7 linked regions of the Homo sapiens genome follow. The protein of the gene in region 2 purifies or fractionates together with the protein of the main gene of each other region. This does not show direct contact. Each region holds a gene or a part of one and is shown on either strand. Other genes may lie near its edges.

Region 1 (3,500 bases), on a different chromosome or scaffold from region 2:
GGCAGGAGAATGGCTTGAACCTGGGAGGCGGAGGTTCTGGTGAGCCGAGATCACGCCACCACACTCCAGCTTGGGCAACAGAGCGTCTCAAAAAAAAAAAAAAAAAAAAAAAAAAAGAAAGAACACTGGACGATGGAAACCACGTAAGAGAATACTCAGAGACAGGAATGAACAGTGTGTACAAAACAAAAAAAAAGCAGCTTAATATGGCCATATGAAAAATAAGCCCTGATTGCTAAATGTTGTCCCTTTTAAAGGTATCCAACAATTAGTGACCCTTGACATGGGCATGATGACAAAAAATAGCATGTTCTTTTTCAAATGAGGAAATGGAAGACAAAACAGATTGCCCATGGCAGCATAAAAACCCAGTAGAGCCAACCATAGGAATAATGGTACCTTTATATTCTGTGTTATTCTGATCTGGGGGATTCAAATCTATTTCACAAGAGGAAATTATTCAATCATAGAATCTACTTCTTTTAAAAAAATACATAAGGCCGGGGTGGTGGCTCACACCTGTAATCCCAGCACTTTGGGAGGCCGAGGTGGGTGGATCACAAGGTCAGGAGATCGAGACCATCCTGGCTAACACGGTGAAACCCCGTTTCTGCTAAAAATACAAAAAATTAGCTAGGTGTGGTGGCGGGCGCCTGTAGTCCCAGCTACTCGGGAGGCTGAGGCAGGAGAATGGCCTGAACCTGGGAGGCGGAGCTTGCAGTGAGCCAATATCGCACCACTGCACTCTAGCCTGGGCAACAGAGTGAGACTCCGTCTCAAACAAACAAACATAAAGAGGCCAGGTGCAGTGGCTCACGCCTGTAATCCCAGCACTTTGGAAGGCTGAAGTGAGAAGACTGCTTAAGCCCAGGAATTCAAGACCAACCTGGGCAACATATTTTTTAAATAAAATAAAATAAAGAAAAAAGTAGCAGAAAATTTTGCACCTAAAAGAGAAATTAACATGAAAATCATATAATTATTTTCCTCATACAAGGAAATGTTATAAGCTAATTTTCACACAAACTTTTCAACCCAATTTACCTAAGCTTATATATCATAAGGCTCCTAGTCTTGATATCAATAATCATATCCAATAATGGCGAATAAGCCTAAGGAAGTGAGTGACTTGTGCAAGATATCCCAGTGCAGACCTTGGAGTCTCTTCACTCAAAAGCCAATTCATATTACCTATCTTTCAACCTACCTTCATATAACCATGTAGTGTGCTCTTCAGCTTAACACTCTTCAAATACTATAACTGATGAACTATCAGTGTTACATACTTTCATGTAACATAAATTTAGGTTTCATTAGGCTATGAAATTATAATGTTCAAATAGCACAATTTTCTACAATATCCACATTTCACAGTGTAAACAAAAAGAAAAATCATTTTCTCTACATTTTGTCTTTGCATTTTCCTTTTTACATATACTATGAACAATAAATAGTACTTTTTTTTTAAAGCAAAGGAGACCTTTTGTAAAAGAAACTAAACCGAGATCCAACAATTCATAGTATAACAAAGAATGACTTAAAGTTGCAAACCTTTGAGAAGCTTCTTCAGTAGGTCATCAGAGTATTTCAGGGCTCCAAGATGAGCAAGAACCTGAGGTAATCTATAATCAGCAAACATGGTGATACTGGAGATGTCCTTGAAGCAGCCATCTCCTTTTCCTTCCAATACACTCCACGTATCTGCTACAAGGATTTGGGCTCGTTTGTAAAAAGAAACTCTTTTCCCCTGATGAATGAAGAGAATATAAACGTTATTTGAGTATCTGAAAGCTTTATATATGCTATTTTTTAAAGGTGCAGTTGAAACATTTTTTAAAAGGCAGAATAATCTTACTTTGTTGGTAAGAATTTATAGATTGGCCGGGCACCATGGCTCCCGCCTGTAATCCCAGCACTTTGGGAGGCTGAGGTGGGCAGATTGCTTGAGCCCAGGAGTTCAAGACCAGCCTGTGAAACATGGCATAACTCCAACTCTACAAAAAAAAAAAATTAGCTGGGCGTGGTGGCACACATCTATGGTCCCAGATACTCAGGAGGTGAGGTGGGAGAATCGCATGAGCCTGGGAGGTCAAGCCTGCAGTGAACTGTGATCACACCACTGCACTCCAGCCTGGGTTACAGAGGGAGACCCTGTCTCAAAAAAAAAAAAAAAAAATTCATAGATCTTTTACAAGAAACAAAAGGATTTAATGAACATTAAATTTTCTATCACTCCAAACTCGCTTCCCATTTTTCAAGGCACATAAAATACAATTTATGTAATCTTGATACTACTTACTATTCTTTTTCAATGGCATTACTTCATATACAGATTTCTGCAATATAATCCTAGGGCTTATTATTATTATTATTTTTTGAGACGGAGTCTTGCTCTGTCGCCCAGGCTGGAGTGCAGTGGTGCAATCTCGGCTCACTGCAAGCTCCGCCTCCTGGGTTCACGCCATTCTCCTGCCTCAGCCTCCCGAGTAGCTGGGACTACGGGCGCCGTCACCACGCCCGGCTAATTTTTTGAATTTTTTTAGAAGAGACGGGGTTTCACTGTGTTAGCCGGGATGGTCTCGATCTCCTGACCTTGTGATCTGCCCGCTTCGGCCTCCCAAAGTGCCGAGATTACAGGTGTAAGCCACCGTGCCTGGCCCAAGGGCTTATTATTTTAAATGTGTAGATAGCATTCCTTTTGAAAGTTTCTTAAATTAAAACACGTCTGTTTTTCTGATTGCAATATAATTCACATTAATTGTATAATATACAGCCAAGTATAGGCCAGGCATGGTGGCTCACGCCTGTAATCCCAGCACTTTGGGAGACTGAGACAGGAGGATCACGAGGTCAGGAGTTCGAGACCAGCCTGGCCCATATGGTAATACCCCGTCTGTACTAAAAATACAAAAATTAGCTGGGTGTGGTGGCGATCGCCTGTAGTCTCAGCTACTCAGGAGGCTGAGGTAGAAGAATTGCTTGAACTTGAGTGGCAGAGGTTGCAGTGAGCCGAGATCGCACCACTGCACTCCAGCCTGGGCAACAGAGCAAGGCTCTGTCAAAAATAATAATAATTAAAAAAAAATACAGCAACATACAAAGAATAATCATCCATAAGCTCAGGTCTGAAGAGAACCACAACATTCATTTTTAACTGTTTCCTTTCAGATAATATGATTAACTTATTTTATGAAGACATTAATTGATCAACAGCTAGAAAATGATCATATTTACCAATTTTGGAAATGCTCAAAGTTGATATGTAAGTCCAAATATGAAAATAAAATAGCCAATTATATTTATACATAGAAAAGACAAATTTAACCAAGCATTAGTGGGTTATAATTTAACTAAAAAATTCTAGCTAAGTGTGGTGGCTTACACTTGTAATCCCATCAATTTGGGAGGCCAAAGCCAGAGGATTGTTTGAAGCCAGAAGTTCAAGACCAGCCTGGAAAACGATGAAACTCCATCTCTACAAAACACGGCGAAACCCTGTC
Region 2 (3,438 bases):
TGCTTCCAGTCCTCTGCCAGCCCAGCCTGCTCCTGACTCCCAGCACACAGTGTCCTCTCTAAAGCTGTTCCTTAATTGTCCCCAAACAGAGCCTGCTGACTCCTCTCAGAGGCAATTTCCCTGCCAGTCTGCCTCTCTCCTCCTCCGGGAAGCCTTCCCTGGCCGCCCATCCCTGTGTACACGGTCACCATTTAGTTGTTCCTAATGGTTTCCTGAGTCTTGTCACTTTTGCTCATGTCCCCTGATAGCCTGGTCTAAGGTAGGGCCTGCAGAAGATGCTGATGACTAGATAGGAGCTCTGGGTGCCTGGCTCCAACATTCTCCCTGGTCACAGCCACTGCTGTCCTTGCTGTGAGTTTAGGAGCTGACTCAGGCCAGTCCTGTCTGGAGGGCAGTTAACACAGCCTTTCTGGGCTCCTCTTTTCAGTTCCCATCTCTGTCGTCCCTGCCTGGGTGGAACAAGGTAGCCAGAGGCTGCAGCAGCTCAGACACCAGGCAGGTTCAATGTCAAATGCACTTTACTGGGCCCCTGGGCCTCCCAACACTGTCCTCACCAAGGCTGGGGCACCCCATTCCCAGCACCACCAGCTGCCCAGGAAGCAGGACGGATAGAGGGAACACATGTGGAATGGCTGTTCTCCTACCCCAGAGGGTGCCGGATGATGTTGACAGCACGGCTGCTTCCCTCTCCCCTGCAGCTTCTGTCCCCACCCAGCAGCTTGGCCTTTCCCATAGCAGGGAAGGGGGATACCTGGGGCTTCAAACCAGCCACCTGCTCCTGCTTAAAATGGGGCAAGGGGCCATTTGCAAAATTCTTCGAGGGGCAGTGGTGAGGTAGAAGGGGTGGCAGCCTGCTCCTGTCTGGGAGAGGGCTGGGCAGACACTGGGAGCCGGGCAGACACTGGGAGCCGGGCTGGCTCTTGCTTCAGGCCCAGAGCCCTGGGCCCTGCTCGCTGAGGAAGCTGGTGGTTGGAGCGGCGAGGTTCAGCCAGCTGAGGCTGGAGGGAGTACTGGGTGGCCAGGAGGGGTAGCCAGTCCAACTCGGCTCTCCTCAGCACCCCCAGCCATGGGTCACCAGTCCCGCTCAGCAGGTTCTCGGTAGGGGAGGCCTAAGAGCCTGAAGACATCCTTCTCAGTGGGAGTGGGCAGCACTCGGCCAGGCCCCACCTTGCAGCCATGGGTGTTCCGGACCACAGCAGTGCTGAGGGCATGTTCTGACAGACTCATGCCCTTGGTTTTGGCCAGGGCTCGCATGGAGCGGTTGAAGTGTGCAGAGCCGGTGAAGTAGAGCAGGGCACAGGCAAACTCGCTATAGGGCACCACGATGATGTCCAGGCGCCGGTGCCGCCGCCCTGGCCCTGGGAGCCGGCACACCCCCAAGTACTTCTGTTGCTGACCATTCTCCTCTTGGCTCACCAAGTCATCTGTGAGGAACCCTGGCCCAACAGAGGGGACTGCTGGGAGGGCAGGGAACCAGGCCTGGGCTGTCCCATCCTCCCAGGTCTCTCCTGATGTCTAAGCTGGGGCTTGCCCAGGTATTAGCTGGGTGACACTACCCTCTCTGGGCCCTTCTCCTTTTCTGTAAAACATGGATAGTAATTCCCATCTCCCCCATAGTGTCACAGAAAGATCAGATGAGATACTTGGCCTGCAGGGTTCACTGAGCACCTCCACATAGGTGTGGCGGGGCTGTTCCATCTCTCCCTGGAGAGGATTCCGGCCCCGATAGAGAGATGGGATGCTGGCAAAGCACTGTTCCCCTGCTTCCTGCCTCAGGACTGGAACTTCTGAGGTTCTCCCTCTGAGGGGGCCCCCAGACCTGTGCTGCCCTCTGTCAACCTGCTCACCCAGAGATGGAGCTTATACCTTCCTGCCGAAGACTGTCAAGGAGGCGGCTGAAGATACCCCGGTGGGACCGGCCATCTGGGTGAGTGATGAGCACGTCGACATCACCACAGGTCGCCTTTCCCCGTCGGTATGAACCACATGCCACACACAGCAGCCCAGAGTTAAAGGCCTGGGCTGCTTTCTGGACCTGGGAAAGAGAGCGGTGACAGGTGAGGGGCTGTGCGTGGGGAGCTCCTCTCCCACAGCAGTACAAGGGCCTTCCCAGACTCGGGCCCACACCCTCAGCTTATGCCCATTCCAGATGCCTGCTGCAAGCCCAGGGGAATCCACCCTGAGGAGCTGCTGTTCTTTCCCTTCGCTAGGACAGGAGAGAAGAAAAAGCTCACTGTGCAGGAGGCAAGCCTGAGGAGAGACGGGAGAAGGTGCCGGCTCTGCTTCTGAGAGTGGGCACTGAGCTTGCCCTGTGGAGCTCTTTAAGAGTAGGGAGACACAGACTCTCTCTGCCCCTGCCCCAGCCCACGTGCCCAGGTCTGTGAAACTCCACTTAGGACAAGGGGCCAGGTGCTGAAAGCCCTCAGCCAGGTCTAGGCAGCCCCAGATATCTACTGATTTGGAGCTAAAGGTTTGGAATATGTGAGCTGGGGTTTGAGGACTGAGCAGGTGGCTGGCAGCATGCGCCAGGCCCAGGCCCAGGAGAAAGTGGAGCACAGAAATACAGCTGCACCTGTGGGAAAGGAGAGGAAAGAAAGCAAAGAGGGGGCAGTTCTGAGCCAACACCCACATCCTTTCTTGGTGGGGAGGGAGCTGAGACAGCAACTGCCAGCTGAAGGATTGTCCCTCTGAGGAAAAATAAACCCATTAGCCTCCACCCCTGAGACACTGAGGTTCTTTCATATGCAGATGGCCTCCTGCCTCCACCCCAGGACACTGAAAATTCTGGGGCCCCGGACACCTCAAGTATCCTGACAGGAGGGCTCCGCTAATCCCCTTACTCCCTTCTTGAGCCTCCCAAGAGAATGGAAGGAGGAGGTCCACGTGAGTAATCCCATCAAAACTCCTATGGCTGGAGCCCTTAAATGGGGGCACAGGAGGCCAGGTGGGAAGCCTCTTTTGTTCCAATGGGCTGGGTACTGACTGAGGCATTCTCCATGCCCGGACACCATGGCTGAGTGACGGTGTCATCACTAGCACCAAGGCCTGGTGATGGGCAGACAAAGAGGCCTGTCCATCCATCTCATACCGGCCTCATAGCCTTGTGGCCTGGAATGGAGCTGGGGGCTGATTTCAATCAAACTAGGCCAGTCTCCATGGGATCCCACTCTATCAGAATCCCTGACCAAAGTGAGCAAAACTTGCCTATTACAAGCAGCTCCTAATCCTAATGCCCATTGAACAAATGATACATCTAGCCCTAAATGCAGTCCAGTGTCTCTCTAATCTAGCTTTTACATGAACCTAATCGCTAACCCAACTCTAAACCAAACCCAAATCTTATTTCTTGGACAACTACAAATCTTAACTTAAAAGCAACCAACATTAAGAAAATCCTACGCCTAATTAAAGCCTAACTTTAACTCAATCTTTTTTTTT
Region 3 (3,500 bases), on a different chromosome or scaffold from region 2:
AGTTAACTTCTGGTCCAAGCTGGTAGTATAATTTCATATCCATGCATGTAGTATGAAAACAGGATTGTGGTTATGAGCTCTCAAGAAAGCCTCTTTTTCTGCACCCAGAGGCGAGGCAAGGAAATTACCTTACCTCTCTTTGGCAGTAGGTGATCTTTTTCTCTCTCACCTTTCACTGAGGTAGCAGACATTTGAGTTTCTCCGGCTAATGCATGGGTCTCTGTTCCTAATCTGTGCCTCACTAAAGTCCAGGGCTACCAGCCTCTTCCCTGAGCAGAGGTCACTGAACTGAGCACTGGGTGTCCAGAGGGTGAACCCACTCAGGGCAGCTGTCATCAAAGCCTTTGCCCACTTCTCCATCTTGCAGCTCCCTCCCTCTTCACTTTCGTCCCTGGAGGGTCCCCTTATTTTCTTATGAGCCTGATTATGCACTTAAATGATACGTTTGGTGTTTTAATCAGAATCTGCAGGTGTGTGATTAACAGGAAAGATCTTCATAATGTTCAGGCCACCATGTCTCCAGCAGTGAAAGTACTTGGAGAGACCCTTGAAGAGTGAGTGGGACTGTCCAGATGTGTAGAAATGAGAGCCGGAGGGAGCCACAGGGGCGTGGGGCAGCAGGACCAGGGCATGTGGAAGGTCAGAGTGTGAGCTGGCGTAGAGGTGGAGCTGAGAAAAGAGACTAGAGGCAGGAGAGCTTTGCAGTTCTTCTAAGGAATATGGACTTCAAAAATGGTTAAAGGTGGTTTTCCAACTTTTCTTTTTAGTACCAAAACACTTTTTTATTTAACAAAAATTACCATGACTACATGATCCAGCAATTCCACTTCTGGGTATATATCCCAAAGAAATAAAAACAGGGTCTGAAACAGATACCTGTACATCTACATTCAAAATAACATTATTCACAATAGCCAAAAGGTGGCAACAACCCAAGTGTCCACCAATGGCTGAATTGATAAACAAGATGTGGATATACAATGGAACATTACTCAGTCTTAAAGAGGAAGGAGATTTTCTGCACTAACTTGACCCAGCTCCTCTGACATGATTCGCATGAGCCTCTGATTCCCACACTAGAGTGGAAGCTCCTTAGGGAGAAGGCCTGTGTTTTTCTTGTCTTTGTTGCCTTTTCCCCTAACCTCAGCTTAACACGATGATTGCACAAAGTGCTCGTTAAGGCTTTTAAATGAGAGAGTAGAGGCCGGGCACCGTGGCTCATGTCTGTAATCCCAGCACTTTGGGAGGCCAAGGCAGGTGGATCACGAGGTCACCAGATCGAGACCAGCCTGACCAACATGGTGAAACCCCGTCTCTACTAAAAATAGAAAAATTAGATGGGCGTGGTGGCCAAGCGCCTGTAATCCCAGCTACTCGGGAGGCTGAGGCAGGAGAACTGCTTGAACCTGGGAAGCGGAGGTTGCAGTGAGCCGAGATCGCACCACTGCACTCCAGCCTGGTGATGGACCAAGACTCCGTCTCAAAAAAAAAATGAGACAGTAGAAATCATGACTCACAGGCCAGCAAGTATACATGTTTTTAGAGATGAAACAAGTGATTGCAAACAGGCCGGGTACATGAGACAGCCTGCTGCAGGCACATGGGGGTCATCTCTGGCTGGCAGGAAGGTGAGGGAGTCCTCTCTTCTCTGGTCCTGGCTGACTCTGCCTCAGCAGGACTTCACTTGACCATTCTCACCTTCTGTCACCTCATCCTTAAAGTGACAGAGTAAATTAACTCTAAGGCCCCATCCAGGACTCAAGCTGTGTGATTTTACAAAAATGAAAATTATATTAATAATCCCATTGTAAAATCCCAAAAGAAAGTCAAGAGACTAGCAGAAAGACAGGTGGGTGATGGGATGTCCTGGACAGAGCCTGGATCATGAGGTCCCCATGTAGTGCTTGTACTACGCAGATGTTTCCTCTTGAGCTATTTTAAAGGTGTGGAAAAAGCCAAAGCAATGCCCTCTCCACGGATACTAAAGACTCACCTTTCCACTCAGCTGCTGCCACCGTCTTTCTGGGAAAACAACTGCAAGGTAAGATACCAACAGCTCCCTGTGACAGAAGGGAAAGTAAGCCAACCAAAGCGAGTCCTGCAGACCCCAACGCAGAGCATTCGTGATCACCTTTGCCTCTCCACTGTCTCTGATGCTTACCAGCAAAGAGAAAACATAAAGTTCTACATTCAGCAGGACATTCACCTGAACAGTTTCAAATAGGACATGAAGGCAGGATCCAGATTGAATGTTTGGAGGGAACTAGAGACATGGGGAGGCAGTGAGTGCAGTAAGCGTAGCTGTGAAATGAAGGGGAGAAGATGGTGGTCCCAGGCTGCAGGCCATGGGGAGGTTTTCTAACAGACCAGGGAGGGAAGAATGAGAGGAAAAAAGCTAAAGCTCTCCCCAAAGGAGGCCAGGCGCGGTGGCTCACGCCTGTAATCCCAGCACTTTGGGAGGCCGAGGCGGGTGGATCACAAAGTCAGGAGATCGAGAGCACGGTGAAACCCCGTCTCTACTAAAAATAAAAAAAAACTTAGCCGGGCGCGGTGGCGGGCGCCTGTAGTCCCAGCTACTCGGGAGGGTGAGGCAGGAGAATGGCGTGAACCCGGGAGGCGGAGCTTGCAGTGAGCCGAGATCACGCCACTGCACTCCAGCCTGGGCCACAGAGCGAGACTCCATCTCAAAAAAAAAGTTCTCCCCAAAGGGTAAACAGATGAATCAGGCAGAGCAACGCTCTTGAGGACACCCCACCTCTGCCTCTGGTAGACTCTGAGTTCTTCGTTTTATTTATTCTGTGACTTTATTCGTATGCACCCCAGTGCCTAATAAGTTCCTGGCACATAGAGGGCATTAGACACGTCCTTGCTGAGTAAATACGGAAGTGGCTGTAGAGCAGGTGGAGTCAAGGGTACAAACTGAGCCGCCAGCCTTGGTGAGAAAGTGGGGCACTGCTTCCTTAAAGGCAGGAATGAAGGGGAAAGAAGGGCTAAGAAAGATATGTTGCTAGGGGACTGGAGTGAAGTTGGAGGACTCAAATGACTTCACTCCTTTTAGTAATAATGTTGGATAAGGGGACAAAAACTTCCATTTCCAGAATTATGGCAAACTAGGTGTTCTGAACCCCTGAAGCCCTTATATGTAGAACATCCAGGATTACTGCATAAAAAAATCACAAGTTTCCTTTTAATGCATAACTGAGATCAAAATAAAGTCCCTAAGTTTAGAAACTGCAGAGGAAACTGAAACTCAGAGAGGCAAATTGAGACTGGGACTCTCCAGGGGAAATCTGATGACCTGGATAATCCAGCAATTTAAGTTTTAATGGCTGCACAGGGACAGGGTCAAAGCCCATGGCACAAGGAACCAGAAGAATGAGGAGCCAAAGCTGGGACCACTGAAGGGCTACATCCTCAATGGATGGGTGGAGGAGGCAGAGAAAGACCTTAGGGAACCACTCTGCCTTGACCTAGGCGCTCAGCTCCCTTGAGAATGTATA
Region 4 (3,500 bases), on a different chromosome or scaffold from region 2:
TCACCATGTTGGCCAGGCTGGGTCTTGAACTCCTGACCTCAGGTGATCTACTACCTCGGCCTCCCAAAGTGCTGGGATTACAGGCATGAGCTACCGCGCCCAGTCTTGCTCATTTAATAGGTAGGAAAATTGAAGCTTGGAGAAATTGGCCTCTTCCTCAGTCTATTCCTTGACAAACCAGCCTCAGGGGGGCTTTTCAGAATGGAAGTTTGATTAAGTCACTCTCTTCAACTGCTTCTTGGACATGACTCAAGACAAAAACCAAATTATTCAGACTAAGTGTAAGAGAAATGGGAGAATAGGAAAACTGCCATTTTGCAACCTCTGGTGAAATAGCTGACTCAGGCAATGATTGTTGATGGATGGCATTAAAGGAGAGGCTGATGGGGCCTGGATAGTCACAGGATGCTAATTCTTGCTACTGGAAAATACACAGTTGTAGCTTTACAATGCGGTTTTCGATGGCTGCCACCTGTCTCAGTCTGCTCCAGCTGCCATAACAAAACACCACTCTGGGTGGCTTAAACAACAGACCTATTTTCTCCAGTTCCTGAGGCTGGAAGTCTAAGTTCAGGCTACCAGCATTGTGGGGTTCTGGTGACACCCTCTTCCTGGTTTGCAGATGGCTATCTTCAGTGGCAGAGAGAAAGCTCTCTGGTGTCTCCTTCTGTTTTTTGGGAGGAGTCTCACTTTGTCACCTAGGTTGGAGTGCAGCGGCGGATCTCGCCTCCCAGGCCCAAGTGAATCTCCTGCTTCAGCCTCCTAAGTAGCTGGGATTACAGGCGTCCACCACCATGCCTGGCTAATTTTTTTTTTTTTTTTTTGAGACGGAGTTTCGCTCTGTCACCCAGGCTGGAGTGCAGTGGCGTGATCTCGGCTCACTGCAAGCTCTGCCTCCAGGGTTCATGCCATTCTCCTGCCTCAGCCTCCCGAGTAGCTGGGACTACAGGCGCCCGCCACCATGCCCGGCTAATTTTTTTGTATTTTTAGTAGAGAGGGGGTTTCACCACGTTAGCCAGGATGGTCTCTATCTCCTGACTTCGTGATCTGCCCACCTCGGCCTCCCAAAGTGCTGGGATTACAGGCGTGAGCCACTGCGCCCGGCCTCATTTTTGTATTTTTAGTAGAGACAGAGTTTCACCATGTTGGCCAGGCTGGTCTTGAACTCCTGATCTCATGTGATCCACCTGCCTTGGCCTCCCACAGTGCTGGGATTATAGGCATGAGCCACCATGCGCAGCCTCCTCCTATTATAAGGACACCAATCCATCAGATTAGGGCCCCACTCTTTCACCTTAATTATCTCCACAAAGGCCCTACCTCCAAATATAATCACCTTGGGGAATTAGGGCTTCAATATACGAATCTGGGGGGGACATTCAGTCTATAATGCTGCCTGAGCCTGAATGAATTTCACTACCCCTGAAAATGGGGCACCCAGGCAGTATGCAACATGAAGCGACCAGCTCTGAAGTAATCACCTGACAGCTGAATGGAAATTTAATCAAGTCTTTACATTCAATTTCCTGATTCTAGGAAGTCAGAGGATATAGCAGGGAATAACAAAAAAGGGCCAGAGAGTAAATGTTTTGAACTTTGCAGGCCAAACAGCCCCTGTAAGTACTCCACTCAGCCCCTGTAGCATAAAAGCAGCCACAGACACACAAACGGGCATGGCTGTGTTCCAATAAAACTTTACTTTTAGACTCTGACACGGAATCACATATAATTGTCATAGGTCACCAAATTCATTCTTTTGGTTTTTTCCAGTTATGTAAAAACGTTAAAAACCAGGCCAGGCGCAGTGGCTCACGCCTGTAATCCCAGCACTTTGGGAGGCCAAGGCGGGCAGATCGTGAGGTCAGGAGATTGAGACCATCCTGACTAACACGGTGAAACCCCGTCTCTACTAATAATACAAAAACAAAATTAGCCGGGCGTGGTGGCGGGCGCCTGTAGTCCCAGCTACTCCGGAAGCTGAGGCAGGAGAATGGCATGAACCCGGGAGGTGGAGCTTGCAGTGAGCGGAGATCACGCCACTGCACTCCAGCCTGAGCGACAGAGCGAGACTCCATCTTATAAAAAAAAAATGTTAAAAACCATTTTTAGTTTGCAGGCTGAACAAAAACAGGTAGCAGTTACAAAAGTCAGATATCTCCTGGCTGTTGTGGCTCATACCTGGATAGGGTGCTTTGGGAGGCAAAGGCAGGAGGATCACTTGAACTCACGAGTTCAAGACCAGCCTGAGCAACATGCCAAAACCCTGTCTCTACCAAAAAAAAGCAGCAGCAGCATGGTTTTTGAGACCAGACTTGAACTTGCTATGGGCAACATAGCAAGACTCCATCTCCACAAAACAAAATTTAAAAAATTAGCCGGGCATAGTGGCATGCGCCTGTGGTCCCAGCTACTTGGGAGGCTGAGGCAGGAGGATCACTTGATCCCAGGAGGTTGAGGCTGCAGTGAGTTATGATCGTGCCACTGCACCACTGCACTCCAGACTGAGTGACAGAGTGAGACCTTGTCTCTGGGGAAAAAAAAAAAAATGCCAGGTGAGGTGGCTCACACCTGTAATCCCAGCACTTTGGGAGGCCGAGGTGGGCGGATCACCTGAGGTTGGGAATTCGAGACCAGCCTGACCAACATGGAGAAACCCCATCTCTACTAAAAATACAAAATTAGCTGGGCGTGGTGGTGCATACCTGTAATCCCAGCTACTCGGGAGGCTGAAATGGGACAATCACTTGAACCTGGGAGGCGAAGGTCGTGATGAGCCAAGATCGCACCATTGCACTCCAGCCTAGGCAACAAGAGTGAAACTCTGTCTCAAAAAAAAAAAAAAAAAAAAAAAAATCAGGATATCTGATAAGGGAATTGCAGTGAGAATATATTAAAAACTTACAACTCAATAATGAAAGGACACCTAACACAATTTGAAAATGGGTAAAGGATTGGAATAGACAGTTCTTCAAAGATCTACAAATGGCCAATAAGCATGTTAAAAGACACCAGTTCACACCCCCTAGAATGACTATAATCAAAAAGATAAATAATAAGTGCTGGTGTGGATATGGAGAAACTGGAACCCTTATACATTGGTGGTAGAAATGTAAAATGGTACAGCCATTCTGGAAAAGTCACAGTTTCTCAAAAGGTTAAATAGTCACCTTTTGACCCAGCAATTCCACTGCCAATAGAAATAAAAACATACATCCATGCAGGCGGGGCGCGGTGGCTCATGCCTGTAATCCCAGCACTTTGGGAGGCCAAAGCGGGCGGATCATGAGGTCAAGAAATCGAGACCATCCTGGCCAACATGGCGAAACCCCATCTCTACTAAAAATACAAAAATTAGCTAGGCGTGGTAGCGCATGCCTGTAGCCCCAGCTAGTCGGGAGGCTGAGGCAGGAGAGTCGCTCAAACCTGGGAGCCGAGATCACGCCACTGCACTCCAGCCTGGGTGACAGAGCAAGACTCTGTCTCAAAAAAAGAAAAAAAAA
Region 5 (4,300 bases), on a different chromosome or scaffold from region 2:
AGCCTGGGCAAGGCCTCGGGAGCCCCAAGGGTGCAGGACATGGGGAGGTGGCTCAGTTCCCCCAGCTCCTTCCACCTCCAGCACCCAGGCCAGCACTAAGAGGGGCCAGAGGGAAGAACCCAGGGCAGGGCAACTCCCCCTCAAAGAGCTGGGGCATGGGTCAAGGGCAACAAGGGGAGTGCCGCTCTCCCCTGAGTGGAGACCTCACAAGAACCAGCAGGTTCTTGGAGAGGCTGGTGTTGGGTGAGCCGGGCAGGTCCAGGGCTTCCCAGCTAACAGGCCTCTAGGTCCCACTAATCTGATTGTGGCTTTGGCTGCATGCAGGTGCCTGAGGCTGGGATTAGACAGATCCCCTTCTCCCTGCCCAGCACCCAGCCCCGCAGGTGATTCTTCCTGTCCAACAGGCAACACCCCAAAGCAGGCAGTTGACCTTCTAGTAACCATTCCCAAGCTAAAGCCTTCCTAGCAAATCAAACACATCACCCCCTCCCTCACCACCCCATCTGCACACACATAGGCAACTACGTAAACTCACTTGGACCCCTCATCCCCATGGATCTATGTACAAACCCCCATACTTCCGCCACACACCCACACACAGGCACACATGCTTCCATACACCTACCCGCACACACTGGCACATGTGTGTACACACGTGCACCTTTCCACATGCACACCTACATGCACACCCCCCCATAAGTACATGAACACGTACACATCCATGCATACACGGCTCCCCACATACCCACCTGCACACACACACCGTCCAAACATGGGTAGGACAGAGGCTGACACATACGCACCCCTCTGCAGTGCATGACTGGCCCGGGACCCGCATCAGGAACGTACCTTCTGCAGTTCTGGCTGTTCATGGAAGGCACAGGTGTCCAAGTTGGGCTGGGACTTGGTACATATGGTGCGGCCCACCTCTACGTCGAAGAAGTAATTCACCCCCCCAAAGGTCTGCACACAGGAGAAAACAGGAAGCACGGACAGCGCCCCCATCAGTTCATGCACTCACAGGCACTTCACTGTGGCTGAGTCACTGGACTTGCTTGGGGGCTTCGTGAGCTGCCCACATGTCAACACAAGGCACACAAGCCCCCTCTTCCTGTCAGCTGGCAGGGTGCTGAGCCTCATGCCCGCTCTTAAACATCGTTTTCTCTGTGCTGGGTAAGAGGATTCATTGAATTCTGCTACCTGTGGCTCAGGGGTGAGGGAACACTGACTCTTTTCTAGGAAGGCTGTCTGATGACAAAATTTCAGCTAACTCACGAAAATCTTATTCCCTCCATTTAACCTAGATTTATTACTTCACTTAGAGTAGGAAATGAGATGCTTCACACACACAGATATTTTGGGTCAATGGGGCCGCCCAGATGCCACCATTTCAAGTGTGAGGTTCAAGATACGTTTCTCAAGTCAGCAGCACACCTGAGTGTCTTACAATTGCAGATTATAATTGAACCCTTTCCCTGCACAGGGCCTCTCCCAGACACTACGTGGCAGAGCTGTGGAGAAACCTGGGATGAGGGACTCTTTGGAACCAGGAGGAACTGCTGAGATCCCTCGAGTATCAGTTTACCCATGTATAAAATAGGCTTCCAGGTCTGATGGTCTGCAATGCCCTGTGCTTCACTCCAAGTTACTGTCATGCTTAAGAGGGAGATGCAGGCCAGCGGGGACCATGGCACCAGGGAGTGCACCTCCTGTGCAGGGTGAGGGCTCCAGCTGACAGCTGTAGGAGGAGAAACGGGACTGGTCTGGATTCCTTTGAATTTCTAGAAGGTGGAGGAGCTCTAAAGGCTGTGTCACTATTTGCTGCTCTGCCATGGGATGCAGGTCAAGCTGGGCCCAGTTGCCCTGCTGAAGCTCACTCTGGACCTAACCCCTCCTCTGCTCTGCTGGGTGACTGCTGTCCTCATCTGGCTGAGGTCTAACTCTGCATCAGCTCGTAGAGGCAGGGCCAGGCGTGCTCCACCCCAGCAGGGACTCAGCCATCCTGGCCTGCAGGGGTGGGTCAGCCTGCCTGAGGGTGAAGGCCACTAGCCCTAAGGGGCTGTGCCCAAGGGCATGACTTGGGGAAGGAAGAAGGGCTCTGCAGAACAGGGAGCCAGGTTCCCATGTGGCCCCTGAGGAGAGGACTCAGGGAGGAGAATGAGCCTCACCGCCTGGATCTCATCCTGAGCAGCATCAAGCCCACCCAGAGTCAGCACAGTCTCCATCCACACCTGCTGGACGCTGGGAAATGCCACGGTCATGGTACAGACACAGCAGCTGCTGCAGGTTAAAGGAAGCTGCAGCACTTCCTTTAACTGTCTGCAGTGCATGGACCGGGAGCATGCTTAGGCATGAAGGGCATCAGCGGAGAGTCAGAGAAAGCTGAATGAATCTGAGCATTAGATCATGAATGTGTCAGTGTTGATTTGCTTGGAATGCTCTTGGGGGTCCGGCAACAAACCAGGCTAGGGCTCAGGACCCCTCGGGTGGAGGCAGCACCCACCTGCTCCCTGGCTCGCAGCACCTGCAGCGGGCGTCTGTAGTACTCATCTTCGGTGGCCTTGTTGTACTCGCTGATGGCGAAGTGAAGGGCACGCTGTACCCACTCATCATTGAGGTCTGCATCATAGATGCCACCTGGGATTATCCTATTCTCCTCCTTGGAGCTCGAGGCCAGAGCCCCAGCCAGGGTAGCCATCAGGAGTAGCAGGGTACACAGAGGCCGGGCCATGGTCTCCTCAGAGGCAGAGCACAAAGCTGGAGCTGCAGGAGAGGAGGGTGAGAGCCCGAGGCAGGGAGCCCAGACCAGCAGGCAGGTGTGCATTTATCCTGCTTTGGCAGCCCAGCCCCACCCACCTCCATGCCCTGCCCCTGACTCCTCCTCCTCTTTCTGCCCATCCCCTCTTTCTCCATCTCTCTTTTCACTCCCCCACCACTACAAGCTCCCTCCCTGCCTAAGTTCCCCCTGCCCCTCCCAGGCCTCCTCCTCCATCTCCCCCTCCTCCCCACTCCAGTCCTCACTGCAGCCTCCCTGAGCCATGCCTCTCTTCCCCAGTGCTCCCAAGCTTGAGTCACCCAGGTCTCCACAGAGGTGACACTGGTCCTTTGACTGTGAAAGCAATGTGACTTCCTGTTTGCTCAGAAAGGGGAAAAATACAGGGCTTGGCCTCCCGGGGTCTTCAGATATCAGAGGCTTCCAGGAGCACTTGGTCACGGTCTCTGAATCTCTGGAACAGAGAGGTTATTTCAGAAGGTTCCAGAAGACCCTGTCCACACCCTAATATGGAGAATTTCTTTGCCAAATTTAAGGGAATTAACCTTTTTGGAAAAGGTCACTGGCTTCTGTTTTCATAACTCATTATTCAATAAACAAACCTATCACCAGTTACTGCCCATGCCAGGAGGTCTAGGGCTTGAAGACGGAACCTGGATGATGAGCCATAGAGGTGACATTGCAGAGCTGCTGCCCACAGAGATGTGACATGAACCCACAAGCATTTGAAAATTTCTAGTAGATGCATTTTAAAAGATGAGAATAAATGGGTGAAAGTAATGTTTAAAATATTTATTTAACCTAATATAGCCACAATATTATTTCAGCTAACGGGAACAATTATTAATGAGATCGTTTATGTGTGTTTTTTTTTTTTGGTTTTGTAAATCTTTGAAATTCCCTGTGTATTTTTTACACTTAGCCCAGGAATCATTTTGGACTGGCCCCATTTCAAGTGTCCTGTGGCACATGTGGCTGGTGGCTGTGGAACTGCACAGTAAATTCCTACACAGTGTGTGTAGAGGATGGTAGGTTACGATCAACAATTAGGATCAGGGAGTTATACTCACTCTGTTGGAAGTGAAATAGAACAGGGGCTAGAGAGAGACCACTGGACCCTGGTCAGGGTGGTCTCTATGAGACTGGAGAGGTTGAGCAGCCCCAGGCAGCGGGGAACAGCCAGTGCAAAGGCCCTGAGGTGGGGTTGGGACATGCCTGCTCCAGGAAGAGGAAGCTCCTGGAGGGGATGTGAGCAAGGGAGGAAACCACCTGGAGTCTCACGGTAACTGTGGGTGAGGACCGGTGGAAGGTGCACGGAGACCCCTGTGAGGCAGTGGGGGTGTCAGGAGAGGGAGCAGCAGCCACGGGATGAATGTGGGAACCCACAGGCCTCTCTTGCTTCTCTCCTAGGCAGCCATGCTTCAGGCTCCTTTCCTCTGTGCACTCCTTGGAAGACTCACGTGGCATTTTAAAAATTGCCTTAAATGAGGTAGAATTTACATACAATAAAATGCCTAATAGTATGTG
Region 6 (3,500 bases), on a different chromosome or scaffold from region 2:
GTTGCAGTGAGTCAAGATTGCGTCACTGCACTCCAGTCTGGGTGACAGAGCGAGACTCCATCTCAAAAAAAGAAAAAAAGTACTTTTGAATAAATAAGTAAATGAGCAACTCATAAGAAGAGATATAAACGATCTGACCTGAGATAATCAGCTTACTCATTGTTTAAAAAGTGTAGAAGGATGGGCCTGGTAGTTTATGCCTGTAGTCCTAGCTACTTGGGAGGTTTGGGCGGGAGGATTGCTTGAGCCCAGGAGTTTGAGACTGTAGCATACCATGATCGTGCATGTAAATAGTCATGGTACTCCAGCCTGGGCAACGTAGTGAGTTACTGATCAAAAAAAAAGTGAAGTTTTCTAAATTAAAGAACTATGGTAATGGACATTATTTTCTGTTTGCCCTTGATACAAGAAAAGATAAAGAGAGATAGACTGCCGGGCGCGGTGGCTCATGCCTGTAATCCCAGCACTTTGGGAGGCTGAGGTGGGCGAATCACCTGAGGTCAGGAGTTCGAGACCAGCCTGACCAACATGGAGAAACCCTGTCTCTACTAAAAATACAAAATTAGCCAGGCGTGATGGCCCATGCTTGTAATCCCAGCTACTCAGGAAGCTGAGGCAGGAGAATCGCTTGAACCTGGGAGGCGGAGGTTGCAGTGAACCGAGATTGTGCCATTGCACTCCAGCCTGGGCAACAAGAGCAAAACTCTGTCTCAAAAAAAAGTGAAATGGACTAATACCTCCTTAGGTCCCTTTGTAGCTTCACTCATTGACTCCATCCCTTTATTGTTTGTTTGTTTGTTTGTTTATTTATTTATTTAAGATGGAGTCTCACTCTGTCACCCAGGCTGGAGTGCAGTAGTGCGATCTCAGCTCACTGCAACCTACACCTCCTGGGTTCAAGTGATTCTCCTGCCTCAGCCTCCCAAGTAGCTGGGACTACAGGCATGCACCACCACACCCGGCTAATTCTTGTATTTTTAGTAGAGATGGGGTTTCACTATGTTGGCCAAGCTGGTCTTGAACTCCTTACCTGAAGTGATCCACCTGTCTTGGCCTCCGAAAGTGCTAGGATTACAGGTGCGAGCCTTGGCGTCAGGCTCCTTTATTGTTATTATAATTTGGCATGGGGGACGGGGTAGGTCTCACTGTGTTGCCCAGGCTGGCGTACAGTGATTTGATCACAGCTCACTACAGCCCCCGAAGTCCTGGGCTCAAGCCATCCTCCCGCCTTGGCCTCCCAAAGTGCTAGGATTACAGGTGTGAGCCAGTGCACCAGCCTGTCCTTTTATTATGATCCTACTTAAATGCATTCTGAAGAAAAAATAAGTAAATATTGATACTGAACCCTTCAAAAATGATGTTTTTGGACTGCATTGTTTCTTGTGTTTTATTTACTGACAAAAATTATTGGTTGATTAGAAAGGTAACTTCCAGGATTTCTAATTTTTTTTTTTTTTTTCCCCAGACAGAGTCTCACTCTGTCGCCCAGGCTGGAGTGCAGTGGTGCGATTTCGGCTCACTGCAACCTCCGCCCCCCAGGTTCAAGTGATTCTCCTGCCTCAGCCTCCTGAGTAGCTGGGATTACAGGCGCCTGTCACCACACCTGGCTAATTTTTGTGTTTTTAGTAGAGATGCGGTTTCACCGTCTTCTGCAGGCTGGTCTTGAACCCCTGACCTTGTGATCCACCCGCCTCAGCCTCCCAAAGTGCTGGGATTACAGGCATGAGCCATCACACCTGGCCTGATTTCTAAGTTTTATAGGAACTACAGGCCGTGCCTGGTGGTTCATGCCTGTAATTTCAGCACTGTGGGAGGCTGAGATGGGTGGATCAACTTTAGGCCAGGAGTTTGAGACCAGCCTGGCCAACCTGATGAAACCCCCATCTCTACAAAACATACAAAAAAATTAGCCAGGCATGGTGGTGCATTCCTGTAATGCCATGTACGTGGGAGGCTGAGGCATGAAAATTTCTTGAACCTGGGAGGTGGAGATTGCAGTGAGTCGAGATCACACCACTGCATTCCAGTCTGGACAGAGTGAGACTCTGCCTCCAATAAAAAAATAAATAAATAGGCTGGGCGCAGTGATTCACACCTGTAATCCCACCTGTAATCCTAGTCCTTCGGGAGGCCAAGATGGGCGGATCATGAAGTCAAGAGATCGAGACCATCCTGACCAACATGGTGAAACCCCATCTCTACTAAAAATACAAAAAATTAGCCGGGCATGGTGATGGGCGCCTGTAGTTCCAGCTACTTGGGTGGCTGAGGCAGGAGAATGGTGTGAACCCAGGAGGTGGAGCTTGCAGTGAGCTGAGATTGCGCCACTGCACTCCAGCCTGGGTGACAGAGCAAGACTCTGTCTCAAAATAAATAAATAAATACATAAATAAATAAATAAGGGAATAACAGCATCTGATAAATTATAGCTGACAAATATTGCAAAAATTAACCTCTTAAAACATACTGTGATTCCCATCATTTGTATTACTTTGAGGAATACCCTTTTTCTTTCCTATCCCCAGTTTCTCGATCTTTGGGCATGAATGCATCAGTGACAATTGAAGGAACATCTGCTGTGTACAAACTCCCAATTGCACCATTAATTATGGGGTCACATCCAGTTGACAATAAATGGTAAGTTAAATATAATTTTAGAGTAGCAAAGTCAATTTTTCTCAAAGCGCAGTATGTAACAAGTTTTAACCTGGCTGTTACCCCACTTGAATTTCTAGAGGTTGGCCTTTTGTTTTATCCATTCATTGGTTTCTCTTTTGTTTGATATCTGAGTGTTCCTCTCCAAAGTCGGCTCGTAGAACACATTCTCTGCACTGAAAGGGAAAGAAGAGAACTGTGCTAATTCCTCTGGCTTAATGAGTGCCCCCTTTTATCTTACGTTCATTAGTTACATTGGAGTAATAACTGGAGAACATGCCTCAGGATAAATGTTTGATTAAATTCTACAGTGTTAACCAATAGCATGTCTGGGAATTGGGGGTAGGAAGTTTCACAGAGTGAGCTTTTGAGAGTTTGTACTTATGTGTCTGTGTGATACATACATGTTTAAGAATAGGTGTTTGTGGCCAGGCATGGTGGCTCACGCCTGTAATCCCAGCACTTTGGGAGGCTGAGGCAAGTGGAACACCTGAGGTCAGGAGTTCAAGACCAGCCTGGCCAACATGGTGAAACCCCATCTCTACTAACAATACAAAAATTAGCCGGGCGTGGTGGCGGGCACCTGTAGTCCCAGCTACTCACGAAGCTGAGATAGGAGAATCCCTTGAACCCGGGAGGCAGAGGTTGCAGTGAGCCAAGATCACGCCATTGCACTCTAGCCTGGGCATTAAGAGGGAAAATCTGTCTCAAAAAAAAAAAAGGTGTTTGGGTTTTTCATTTTTATATCAAGTCAGAATCCAACCCTTCCACCCTCTTTTTTTTGAAGGACCCCTTCCTTCTCCTCAATCACCAGTGCCAACAGTGTTGATCTTCCTGCCTGTTTC
Region 7 (3,963 bases), on a different chromosome or scaffold from region 2:
CACCAGGTCACTAGTTATCAGCTGGGACCATTGTTTCTGCTGCTTACCCTCTCTTCAGGTACAGTGTTACTTATTGCAAAGGGGCATGGAAGAACCATTTCCCCAATCCAGGTTAAAATTTTCCTCTCCTGACATTGCAAGTGTCCAGTTAGCACCTGAGATCTCTCAGCATCTCCTGCACCTCCATTTCCACTTCCTTTTTCACAATCTGAACAGGAATCCTTCTTTCTACTCATATCTTTCCTATATTCAGAGAGAGTGGACTGCTAGTCTTTGGGCTTGTGGTCTCTGAAGGAGCATAGATGAACTCTAACAGGGATGCAAGAACATTCATGTATGTGCAGAAAGAAAATATTAACTGCTGTAATATTTCATACTATATGAGAAAGAATTTGAGGTTTACTAATCTAAAGTATAAGAATTGACAAGAGTATACCATAAACTCATAAATATGCATATATAGTCAGTGCATGTTCAAAAAAATCTTTAGCAGGTAGGCATGTATAAAAATATTATTGAAGAATACTCAATTAAGAATAGGAATTCTAGGACCCAGTGATAGTCCAAGCAGCCTTCCCTGCCACTACCAGGTCCTCTACTCGCCAGGAAATGGTGTTCATCTTCCCACCACTTGTAATATAGCACTTCTATTGATGTGAACAATGGTTATCAGTCCTACCATGTTCCTGGAGAGTCCCCAACTTTGGGACAGGCACCTCTCCTATTTGGTAAGAAAAGCAAACTTACCTTGCTATTGGTCCAGCTTTTCAAGTGGTTGCTAAGCAACAGGGCTATGTAGATATTGGATTTCTGTCTTCATTATATTGTTGTGTCAAATGATCATCTTGGGCAACCTCATGCTCAGTAATTACAATATTATGTGACTCACTGGATTCCTGTTTGTATCTGCCTTTTTGTTCATGACTGAGTAGGTCTTGTTTGCTATCTGCAGATTGACCAGACTTTCCTTTTGCATTTTGGCCAGACCATTGATCTTGATTAGGATTTGGTGTCTGGATTTGAGACTTGCCTTCTACTAGCTTTTCAATTTGGAAAGAAATACTGCTTTGGGATACATCTTTCTGCGTGCTCTTTCCTCCATAGTTGAGTCGTCTTTCTTCTGTACTTGAAGATTGGTATGACATTTTATTTTCCTTATGGCCATGCTCTTGATCTTGACTAGGAATTGTTACCTGGTTTTGAGACTTGCCATGTATTTTCTCTTCAGTTTGGATAGAAATACTGCCTTTGGATACACCTTTCTGTACATCCTTTTCTCCACTGTTGAGACGTCTTTCTTCTGTACTCGAAGATTGGTATGATATTTTATTTTCCTTATGGCCATACTCTTGAGCTTGACTAGGAATTCTTACCTGGTTTTGAGACTTGCCATGTATTTGCTCTTCAGTTTGGATCGAAATACTGCCTTTGGATACACCTTTCTGGATGCCCTTTTCTCCACAGTTGAGATGTCTTTCTTCTGTACTTGAAGATTGGTATGATATTTTATTTTCCTTATGGCCATGCTCTTGATCTTGACTATGAATTGTTACCTGGTTTTGAGACTTGCCATGTATTTTCTCTTCAGTTTGGATAGAAATGCTGCCTTTGGATACATCTTTCTGTACACTCTTTTCTCCATGGTGAAGTTGTCTTTCTTCTGTACGTGAAGACGGGTATGATATTTTATGTGCCTTCCGGCCATGCTCTTGATCTTGACTGAGATTTTTTGTCTGGTGTTGATTCTTGTTATATACTAGGAGCTCATCTTGGGTAGTAAAAATGTCTTTGGGTCCATGTTGGAGTCTGTCTTGATGTGCAGGATGGAGTGAAGTTTGTAGTTTACTTGAATGTTCCTCTCTCACGTCAACCACATTTTGGTAATGCCCTTTATTTTGATGAGAATTTTTAGTCTCACGTTGTTGTTTGTTAACTACTAGTTCTTCAGTTTGGAGAACATAACTGCTTTGGGATCCACCTTGTGTTCTACCTTTTTGTGCACCAGAGGCTGAAGCTTGTTCTTTACTTAGTCCATGAACCCATAGCCTTTTTTCTGTGTTTGAACATTGACTGGATAATCCCTTTCCAGATGGGCTATTCCCCTGATCTTGAGAAGGATTTTGTGTCCCATGATGAGCTTGGCCTCCTTTATGATGTATAACTATCATGTGAAAATGACCTTTTGATTTATCATGGTCTCTGCCTTCTTGTTTATAATTGAGCAGTTGTTGACTTCCACCTAGGTGTTGTTTTGATTTTGTCGCCTTATGTAGGGCATTCAAATCATATTGCTGACTTTTTCGGGTCCAGTCATGATCATTGATGTCTACATGATATGTGTGTTGAATAGAAAAACTGCCTTTGGATTTAGTATGTTGTTGGTCTTTTTGTCCAAAATAGTGCTGGCCCTTTTGTCCATGTGGAAATTGGGAAGATCCGCTTGGCAATTGGCCTTTTGATCCACCTGGTAATTGATAATAGAAATGTATGCATTCATTATCTCCAAAGCTCTCTTGCAACTCTTACCTCCCACCTTTTCCCAACAAATTTCTGATATTTCCAAAAGCCTACAGCGTTGGGTGGAGAAAAATCAATTCTCATCAAGGAGAAGAATCTGTGCCTGAACAGGTTACTGTTTGCACCCTGAATATCCTTAGAGGCCATTTTTTTAAAGTAGCTTTCCCCAAGGCTTACCCTCTCCACTCACCTTTTTGTCCCATCACAGCTGCTTGCTTCTCCAAGATAAGGAGCAGGGAAAGGACAAAGAGGATGATGGACTTCATCTTGCTTGAAAAATCTTGTCTGAGAACTGAGCGGATCTCTTCATTTATATGTTCCTTGAGTGGGTGTGCTATGGGTGGAGCTGAAATGTCAAAAGGCACTGCCCTTTCATAGCTTATTAGTAAATGCCAGCTTCCTCACCCCTGCTCAGTGGGGGATAATGTCAAAGTCCCCAGGGACTTAGCATGGGGACATAATATCAAAGGCAATTTTTTTTACTTTCAGAATCCCCAGCAAAATTTTATCGGTCTTTGTATATCATCATGCCAGATCGCTTGCATTATACAGAAGAAATTCAGTCCGGAGTAGGAAGGAGACTAGCTTCAGGTTACAAAAGTAATTGGTGGCTGACAATGCCTTCATACTCTAAATGCGAGTTTCCTTTCTGATCCAATAACTTAAATACTAAATTTTAGGTATAACTCTATACTTTGTCTTGTTTTAAAGTAATCCTGAGACACATTCTGTTTTACTCGAGAAGGAGCAGTCATAGAAGTAGAATGATACAGAAGAGAAAGAAACTTCATGGAAGCCAAAGAAAAAAATTTCAACAAATAAATGAGGCATACCAATGTCAAATGTATCTGTGAAGTTCATCACAAAAAAGACTAACATGTGTCAAAAACTTTCTGATGTTACTCACTGCTAGTAATGTTAACGAGAGATGAATACAGTTGTGTTGGGTTGTCAGTTGAAGGATGGAGTCCAGCTGAAACCATCTCAAGAAGTCTGATTTCATGGTGGAATGAGAGGTGAGGCTGTATCTGGAGGGTGAGGTAAGCTCCAGAGATTTTTTGAAAGGATGAGAAAAATTTAACATGTTTTTATGATGATAGGAACAACTGTTGGAAAAAGAAGTAAGAATGTTGGTTTCCAAATTGGATTATTTGATGATATTTACCTAAACAAAAATGTATTTACCAAAATACATTTTTTAAATAAAAGCATTTCATACTTCTGTAATAAACTGCTGAACCCTCCAACAGGCTGTGAGGAATATTTGCCAACTTCAGTTCATTAAATAATGTATTGAGAGTGGACCTAAAGCTAAAATTTTTACCTTGGGTGGAAGCATAGGGTTTTTTTGCTTTTGTTTTGTTTTGTTGTGTTGTGTTGTTTTGTTTTGTTTTTTTGCAATTGTGAAAACTTCTTGAAAAATCCAAGGAAGGTTTTTTGTTTGTT

What was found.
Region 1: the proteins of POLL (region 2) and QNG1 purify together in Homo sapiens (affinity purification with mass spectrometry; 3 studies listed by BioGRID and IntAct, with this or other methods). This does not show direct contact.
Region 3: the proteins of POLL (region 2) and SULT1C2 purify together in Homo sapiens (affinity purification with mass spectrometry; 3 studies listed by BioGRID and IntAct, with this or other methods). This does not show direct contact.
Region 4: the proteins of POLL (region 2) and NOSIP purify together in Homo sapiens (affinity purification with mass spectrometry; 3 studies listed by BioGRID and IntAct, with this or other methods). This does not show direct contact.
Region 5: the proteins of POLL (region 2) and CST4 purify together in Homo sapiens (affinity purification with mass spectrometry; 3 studies listed by BioGRID and IntAct, with this or other methods). This does not show direct contact.
Region 6: the proteins of POLL (region 2) and MED1 purify together in Homo sapiens (affinity purification with mass spectrometry; 3 studies listed by BioGRID and IntAct, with this or other methods). This does not show direct contact.
Region 7: the proteins of POLL (region 2) and SEMG2 purify together in Homo sapiens (affinity purification with mass spectrometry; 3 studies listed by BioGRID and IntAct, with this or other methods). This does not show direct contact.

The regions. Positions count from the first base shown.
Region 1 is NC_000009.12:83,943,243-83,946,742, forward strand, and holds part of QNG1 (queuosine 5'-phosphate N-glycosylase/hydrolase), read right to left. Parts: intron 1,748-3,500; coding exon 1,552-1,747; intron 1-1,551.
Region 2 is NC_000010.11:101,578,382-101,581,819, forward strand, and holds the end of POLL (DNA polymerase lambda), read right to left. Parts: intron 2,036-3,438; coding exon 1,867-2,035; intron 1,458-1,866; coding exon of another isoform or gene 1,437-1,457; coding exon 1,072-1,436; 3' UTR 501-1,071; downstream 1-500.
Region 3 is NC_000002.12:108,298,895-108,302,394, forward strand, and holds part of SULT1C2 (sulfotransferase 1C2), read left to right. Parts: intron 1-1,943; coding exon 1,944-2,041; intron 2,042-3,500. UniProt on the Homo sapiens protein: Sulfotransferase that utilizes 3'-phospho-5'-adenylyl sulfate (PAPS) to catalyze the sulfate conjugation of phenolic compounds. Does not transfer sulfate to steroids, dopamine, acetaminophen, or alpha-naphthol.
Region 4 is NC_000019.10:49,574,057-49,577,556, forward strand, and holds part of NOSIP (nitric oxide synthase-interacting protein), read right to left. Parts: intron 2,822-3,500; exon of another isoform or gene 2,703-2,821; intron 929-2,702; exon of another isoform or gene 535-928; intron 1-534. UniProt on the Homo sapiens protein: E3 ubiquitin-protein ligase that is essential for proper development of the forebrain, the eye, and the face. Catalyzes monoubiquitination of serine/threonine-protein phosphatase 2A (PP2A) catalytic subunit PPP2CA/PPP2CB.
Region 5 is NC_000020.11:23,686,239-23,690,538, forward strand, and holds the start of CST4 (cystatin-S precursor), read right to left. Parts: upstream 2,801-4,300; 5' UTR 2,732-2,800; coding exon 2,504-2,731; intron 964-2,503; coding exon 850-963; intron 1-849. UniProt on the Homo sapiens protein: This protein strongly inhibits papain and ficin, partially inhibits stem bromelain and bovine cathepsin C, but does not inhibit porcine cathepsin B or clostripain. Papain is inhibited non-competitively.
Region 6 is NC_000017.11:39,423,764-39,427,263, reverse strand, and holds part of MED1 (mediator of RNA polymerase II transcription subunit 1), read left to right. Parts: intron 1-2,525; coding exon 2,526-2,637; intron 2,638-3,442; coding exon 3,443-3,500. UniProt on the Homo sapiens protein: Component of the Mediator complex, a coactivator involved in the regulated transcription of nearly all RNA polymerase II-dependent genes.
Region 7 is NC_000020.11:45,220,210-45,224,172, reverse strand, and holds the start of SEMG2 (semenogelin-2 precursor), read right to left. Parts: upstream 2,801-3,963; 5' UTR 2,784-2,800; coding exon 2,708-2,783; intron 2,465-2,707; coding exon 792-2,464; 3' UTR 748-791; intron 1-747. UniProt on the Homo sapiens protein: Participates in the formation of a gel matrix (sperm coagulum) entrapping the accessory gland secretions and ejaculated spermatozoa.